Homo sapiens: one gene and its partner. The protein of the gene in region 1 interacts with the protein of each later gene in a biochemical or structural test. Each region holds a gene or a part of one and is shown in the gene's direction. Other genes may lie near its edges.

Region 1 (4,263 bases):
GTGGATAATATGTGGAAATGGACAAACAAAAACTTTGAGACAAATTGACCCATTGAGAAGATTTCCAATGATGATAGGCTGTCTCTGTTCTAAGAAAAGCCATGTTACAATTCGTCCTTTTACTGGAGTCTTGAATGAAACTGTTCAGTTACTTTGGATTCTTCCTACTATATGCTTTTCAGATAGCATATTAAAGTTATAAATTTTGAAGTGTATTGGAAGAAAAACCCTAAATCTCCAGGCCAATGTTTGTAAATAGAAGTCCTTGGCACTCCTGCAGCAGTTTACAATGGTCATTCACATGCGTAATGAATGCTTACAGCAGCCCAAGGATGCAGGTGTTATCCCCATTTCCCCCCATTTTTCAGACAAGCAGTGACCAAGATTTGCTCACTGCCAGAGCTGGGACTCCAGCCTAGAACTTCCCTACTCCCTACTTCCCTAGAAGTCCAGTGCTTTTTGCTACTACAGCTGCCAGAGATGTCATTTCATAGCTGGTTATGTATTGAAAGTTCTTAAAAGTGAGTTAAAAATGAAAATCTTATTGAAATCAAGTGCTTTTCACAAAATATGCTGTACTCAAAACACAAATGTATCACATTCCCAACTTGTGTTTTCATCTATGATGGAGAGATAAGGAAAGCCATGTGATTAATATGGGTAGAAGGGCTGAGGACCCTCTGATAATTGCCATTTGGTCTCTACCTTTTGCCTTGCTGTCAGCAATACCTTCCTCTCCTTTCTGCAATATCCCCTTCCAAATGCTCTCCCCACTGAGCACTCCCTGCAGTATTAAGTTTTCAGATAAAGAAGTAGCTCCTATCTGAGACAGAAAGCACTATTTGTTAGGTTCAGAACAGTGGCTTGGGAGGGGATTGACCAGAAGGTACTGTTTTTGATGGGTTTCTATTATTAGCTGAACAGTCTTCAGTTGTTTTCTCACCATAACATGAGAGATTTAATAAGGTTAGTAGGTTATTGGCTTATTTCCGGTCCTGCCACATTTTTTTCTTTCATTAAAAATGCTATCTTCTGTTGTGGAATGTCTGTCATCTTGAACTAATCAACAAAAATACTATGTTTTTCTGCCGTTAACTATGTGTTGGCAATTTGAGAGAAAATACTAGAATGTAGGTTTGAAAATGATACAAATTAGACTTCAAGGAATACTTAAGAAGATTTGTGGCAGGAAAGGCTTGTGAGTAATTTAGTTGTTAGGCTGGGTTAGGCATCTGTGGATTACATCAAAGAGGATGTGCAGAGATTTTATCGGGAGCAGTGAGGTGACTTTGGCAGCTAACAGGCCACTAGTATCCTACTAAAGCTTTTGTCTGGATAGGAGCAACATGCATGTTTACAGTCTTGCAGGTAAGAGACCTTGGCAAATAATCCTCAGTTACCAGAAGATGTATCCATAACTGCCTAGCTTGCCTGTCAGTTTTTAATAGCTAAAGATATAAATCTGGGTAATCTAACTCAAATGGCTTAGTTTCATTTTAACTCAAATGATATGGGGAATTTTATGATCTTGAAAGAGCAGGTTTTGCTTCGAGAAGCCATTTCTTCAGTATGGAATAATGAGTTGTCAGGAAGATTGAGTACAATGGGCATTTGCCCTGGTCCTAATCAACAGCATTTGGACCCAGAGGAAGCCAGCTATTTTTGTAAGGGCCATTTCTCATCATTAAGTTTCCAAGTGCTTTTTTAGGGTTTGTCTAGTAAAAAGCACTATTTTGAAAAACAAGCATAGTAAGGGTAGGGGGTTGTGGCATTTAATAGTACGTTTTAAAAAGCTAATGGAAATACTTTTAAAACAAGATTTAGGACAAATTCCTTAGGCATCAGTCACACTAATGCATCTTCTGAGTCAAGAACTGGCTATCCTTTCTGTGTACTCAGTCCGGAATTGCATGTGGTGGGTGCTTACTTATTTGCAGTCTCAATCAAGAATTCTCACTCTCAAGATAGCAGAAATAGATAAGCTTCAACTGACAAATTTGGTACAGAAGTCATGGAAAGGAAGGTAAGTCTTTTGCCAGGCATCATGCCAGGCATCAGCATCTTTCAGGACTAAGGAAACAAAAGAGGAAAACTCGATTTTACTACATGTTAACTCTACTGAATACCTCCTTGAATGTCAGATTCCTTATCTGTAAAACAAAGGTTTTGCATTTGATTATCTCTAAGATCCGCTTCTGCCCCCAGTTTTAAAGTTTGATAGGGAAAGAGGTTTAAGTCAGGATACCAGGCCAGGGAGGAAAGGAAGGGAGGGCACAGGCCTCTGGAGTTCAGCTGCCTCCCCCATTAGGATTGAAGTCCCAGCTGCTGGCTACTGCCTTGAGGGAGGTATCAGCCTTTTACTTCTGGATCTTGGCCTCTCCTTGTTCTACCCCTTCCCAACAACAACTGAACATACCAAGTGCTTGCTATGGCCCAAGCACTGTTGCAGGTGAAGCTGCAGCATGAACAAGATAAGCAACATCTCTGCTCCCCAGGCCCTCTGCAGACATGACACCTGCGGGAGACAGACACTGAGCAAGCCAGTGGATACAAGAACTGGGAAAATGAGAAGTGCTATGAGGGCAAGAAGTTGCAACTGTTTTCTTAGCTACCTGGAGGGAGGGAAAATCATTTTCTGGAAGTTTTTTTCTATGAGTTTTGTCTTAGCTTTGGCTGTCATAACAAAGTACCATAGACAGTGGCTTAAACAACAGAAATGTATTTTCTCATACAGTTCTGGAGGCTGGAAGTTGAAGATTGGGATGCCAGCATGGTTGGGTTCTTGCGAGGGTTCTCTTCCTGGCTTTCAGATGGCCGCGTTTTCACTGTGCCATCATCTGGCAGGGAGAGAGAGAACACATGAACTCTGATGGCTCTTACCCAGACGCTAATGACATCTTGAGGCCTCTACCTCATGACCTTAACCCAGTTACCTCCCAAAGGCCCCATCTTCAAATGCCATCAACAATGGGGATTAGGGCTTCAACATCTGAATTGGGGGTGGGGACACAACATTCAGTCCACCATAAATTTGTCATAGGAACCTGAAGATGAGGAGCCAAGCACAGTTTTTAGAATTTGCATAAGTTGTAGATTACTGTAATTATTGTTTTTGCCTCTATGGCTGAGAAACTTTGGGTCAAAACGAGCCTTTTAGAATGTATGAATTAGTTATCTAGGTAGCCCTGAAGTTGGCTCTAGATTTATTAGAAGCTATTTTAACCATTGCATTCACTCAAGAAACCACCGCCTATCTGTGAAGCACAGTCTATCTGTAAAGCTCCCTCACAATAAATTCATCTCAGAAATATGTAGTCTCTAGTGTGTGCCCCCAACTGCTGAATGGGTAGGCCTAGCTCAGCACAGTCATTCGGGCATTAAATATGGCAGAAATGTGGTCCACCTCATGACGTGCAAACAACAGTTGGCTTGTTTAATCTGCACTGCTTTGCCAAGGACGTGTGATTTGTGAGGTGCTGGAGGGGAACCAATTTTAAGAGTCAGCCTGAGTGTCAGCCTCATCTGTCTGCTCTGACTTTTGTCTGCTCTCTAGCAGGCACTCCATCTCCCTTTTCAATTTTCTACCCTGGAAGTGCTCCCCTCCAGGGAGGAAGATGAGTCAGATATGCAGCTGTGATGCTAAATGATTCAATAGAGTCAAAAACAACACAGAACACAGGAAAACGCATTGTTTAATCTGACTCAATTACAAGTGGGCAAGGTAGGTGATGGAGGGCAAGTCAAAAGCATAACGATGTCAAGCTTTGGTAGAACCTAGCAAACCGGAAGACTTCAGGGTGTTTGGAAAGGAATGTGTAGGGGAAAGTTGTCTAAAATGCTGTAACAGCTTTCTGTGTTGCTCTTCTCACTGCCTTAGAATTTAGAGTCAAAATAATAATGATCTTTTCTTCTTTTAGATAGCCTTCCTGGCTTCAACCCACAATCAGTCTAGATTCTAGACAGTGGTTCTCAACCCTATCAGAGTCAATACTCCAGTCTTTAACAACTAATTTGAAGTGTTCCTTTTATAACAAAAACCTTAATGTATTCTTTATTGTCCTACTATAACAATGTTGTTGGTCCCTACCCCCACCGCATACCCCTTGGTTGTTACCATTTTGGTGCACTCTGAGCCCACTCCAGCTGCTAGCCCCTCCACTTCCTATCCGAAGGTATACATGTTGCATGCTGGAAGAGTCAGAAATAATGCTCTCTGGGAAGAGCTCTTAACCTGTTGGCTCTAACAGGGGCCAAGAGAGTGAG
Region 2 (3,695 bases), on another chromosome or scaffold:
ATACCACTCCTCCATGACTAAAGAGCATAAACCTTATTCTTAAAATACAATTTTTTTTAAGATTTAAAATAAAATTAAGAATGGAAGGGTATATGTGTTGGTGAAGAGGATATTACTAATGAAACAAAAACAGAATCCTCTTAAAGAGAAGAAGTACTTCAATGTCACAAAGACCCATTAATTTTCCTGTCAAAACACAACCAAAAAAAAAAAAACCGATTTTTTTAAAAGAAGAAAAAATGAAAGAAAATCCTTCTAATGGGAGTTGACTCAAATTCACTCAAAAACTTTATTCTTTTTATTTTATTTATTTATTTTTAATTAATTTTTAACTGATGCATAATAGATGTACATATTTTCAGGGAACATGTGATAATTTAATATATTTATATAATTTACCAAAAGATTTATTCTTAATATAGAATTTTTGTAATTTGAGAACAAATAGAAAAGATAGGTAGGGGAGAAACACAAAGCCAAGAAAGTCCTCTTAAACAAAAGTATTCTCAGCCTCAACAAAGCCCCTTTTTTTCTCAAAACAAGCAAATACATTTAGAATTATGGGGGGCGGGAAGGGAAGAACATGAACAGTATATTTTAAAGAGAAATATTTTTCTTAAGGAATGAAGATGCCCCCAAACTCACCAAAGTCCTTGAATATTTTTCTGAAAACAAAAAAGAAACAAAGAGAAGGAGAGAGGGAGAAAGAAGGAAGAGAAGGGAGAAGGAGAGAGAGAAACAGAGAGAGGAAGGGAGGGAGGAGGGGAGAAGGAGAGAGGGAGAAAGAAGGAAGAGAAGGGAGAAGGAGGGAGAGAAACAGAGAGAGGAAGAGAGGGAGGAGGGGAGAAGGGAGGGAGGGGGAAAGCCGGACAGGTAGAGAGGAGAGGAAGGTAGGAGCAGGTAGGGAGAGACTGAGATAGGGAGAGGAAAAAAGAGGGAGAGAGACAGAGGAAGGGAGGGAGCCAGAGAGAGAGACAAAGGGAGAGGTGGAGAGGGAAAAAGAAAGAGGGGGAGAGAAGGGAGGAGAGGGAAAAAGAAAGGGGAGACGGAGGAAAGGAGAGGGAGAGAGGAAGGAGGATGGGGGGAGAAATGTGAAGGGAAGGGGAAAAGGACTAGGTAGGATAGAGTGAAGGTGGCAGAGAAGGAGGGGTGGGAAAGAGGAAGAAGAAAATTAACAAAGGGATTATTTTTTAAAGGATCAAAGAAAGAAATTCTCTCCAGGAAAATGCACCAACACCTTACTGCAGACATTGCGTATTATTCCTGATGACTACCCTCTCCATCCCCCACAATAAGGAAAAAAAAACCACACACACACAAAATCTCTTTCTCAAGCTTCTTCAAGGTGGGGAATGTGCGTGTGGGGGGGGTGGTGGGTATGTACCCAATCTCACCCTATCCCAGGGACCTTATGTATCTTTCAGCCTTCACTGTTTCATTAAAAAAAAAAAAAAAAAAAAAAAAAAAAAAAAAAGCAAGGAAAGGAAAAGAAAATCTTTCCAGGAGAGATGTCTCCCATTCTAATTTTTCCCAATAAACTGTTTCTTTTAAAGAAAAGGAAAGAAAGAAAAATCCTACTAGGGAGGGCTCCCCAGCTTCATTAAAACAAGTTGCCCTTGTAGGTCCTCTCCACAAAACCTATTTTTTAATGGAAATCCTCCAGACCTAAAGAGAGATGCTCCCCCACCTCCACCAAAAGCAATGAATCTTTTCCCCTGGAGATTTTTAAAGAAAAAAATCTTCCATTGTAAGAGGAGATACCTTCAACTTTACTAAAATCAATGGACTTTATTCCTCTCCACATCCAAGAGGAGAAAAAAAATATTTGAGGAAAAGGGAAGAAATCCTCCTAATCTAAGGCAAGTTGGCTATAATCCCTCCAACACCATTGAACTTTCTTCCTGAGATTTTTTAAAAGAAAAAGCAAAGACAGAAAAAAAGCCTCAAAAAAAAAAAAAAAAAAAAAGCACTCACTTCTCCCACAGGCTCCACAGATCTGAAGTGTTGTACAAAGAAAAGGTACTATCCCTCTCAAATGGCACCAGTGAACTTTACATTCAGCACTAAGGCTAAAGGATGATACATTTTAATCCCAGGCTGGCTTCCCGCTGCCCCAGTCTATTTCTGGTTACCTTCCCCATCATCCAGGTAGGCAACACTCCCAAGAAAGGCACTGTCCAAAAGAAAAAGAATTAGGAGGCAAACCTTCTGGGGAAAAATCATACCTCTTTTCCAAACCGAACAAATGATTTGGGAATTCGCTGCGTCATTGTTCCCATCTAACACTACAGAGAATTAAGAGTTGATGATAAACTCAAAAGCAGTGACACTCTTGCTATTAACTACCAATTAGTCAGACACCCCTACCTAACAGGGAAGGACCCTTCGCCAACTCAGTAATGGAGGTGATCCATCCTCCATTATGTTTCATTATGTGCTGGCTTTGATGTCTGTTCCTGCAGGGCGATAAAAGGGCTTGATTTTCACAAATCCATAAAATTTGCAAATCATATTTATAAGCAGAGAGACTCAATTAATGTTTTCCAAATTTTAAAATTCATTTATTTCTTTAAAACGTAAACTGATACCTGCTCCCTATGTGCTATGTGTTTAACATTGTGCTAACCACTGAGGATTCTACAGTGAACAAAACCACATGGATGAGACTACCTTTAAGCAAAACTGGTAAATGAGAGACTCAATTACCAAAACAAATATGCAGATGGTGGTTATTTGTTTTACCAGATGCTTTGCCAAGGTATTCACTATTAATAGTCAGTTCTCTCAGCATTCCTCTACTTAAACTAAAATTCAATGTAATAAAATAAAGGAATGCATGCTAATTTCAGAGAATGTGGAAAATCAAGAAAGCTTCTAAAAAGTAAATAAAAATCATCTAGTACCCCACCACTCAGAGATAATCACTGTTAATATTTTGCTATATTTTTCATTTATTTTCTCTGAATATTTGCTTATAGTCTTCTGTAGTAAGACTTTGGGGAATGCACAATTGTGTCTCGGGCTTCACCCTGCCCCAGTCACAGCCCCACACGCTTAATTATTAGATCGTGTTCATTATTCTACCTTGGATTTAGGAAACACTTGTTCATTTTAGCTTAAAGTTCATCTAGTCAAACTCCTGTCTGATCTGATTGTTAAACATATGCTTGAATCACAACCATTCAGGGGCATATTTGCTGTGTGAAGCAGTAAGTATATAGATTTTATGTAGACACAATTGTTGCAGTTGCTCCCATATACAAATGCAGTTTGATCTCACATTTACTTACTGCACTTTTTTGGACACTTAGATTTTATTTGTCCAGTTAGCTTTTGTGACTTGGCCTTGGAGAAGGAGATCCAGAACAAAACCAACCTTATCTTCCCACTGTTAAATTCCCAAAGGGAAAAAATCTAAATTTCTGAGTCACTTTTAACTATATGCCAAAAAAAAAAAAAATTAGTGATGGCTTTGTCTCTTTAACAAGAAGTTACAGCATTATGCTAAACTGGGTATGCCATACCCAGAAGGGAAATAAGAATATATGAGGACATTATCCACAATTATAAGGAAATAGAATATTCAATTCATCCAGCTTTCATTAACCAAGTGTGATCAAAACTTGAGAGAGTTAATAAACTGTATACAACCCAACCAAGGCTGAATCAGTAATTTAAAAGGGAAGTGTAATGCA

The links. The genes of interacting proteins can lie anywhere in the genome.
Region 2: the proteins of MPP4 (region 1) and DGKK interact in a test that uses a peptide from one of them, tested with the Homo sapiens proteins (one large-scale study listed by IntAct).

What each region holds. Positions count from the first base shown.
Region 1 is NC_000002.12:201,695,692-201,699,954, reverse strand, and holds the start of MPP4 (MAGUK p55 subfamily member 4), read left to right. Parts: upstream 1-1,310; 5' UTR 1,311-1,368; intron 1,369-4,263.
Region 2 is NC_000023.11:50,460,662-50,464,356, reverse strand, and holds part of DGKK (diacylglycerol kinase kappa), read left to right. Parts: intron 1-3,695. UniProt on the Homo sapiens protein: Diacylglycerol kinase that converts diacylglycerol/DAG into phosphatidic acid/phosphatidate/PA and regulates the respective levels of these two bioactive lipids.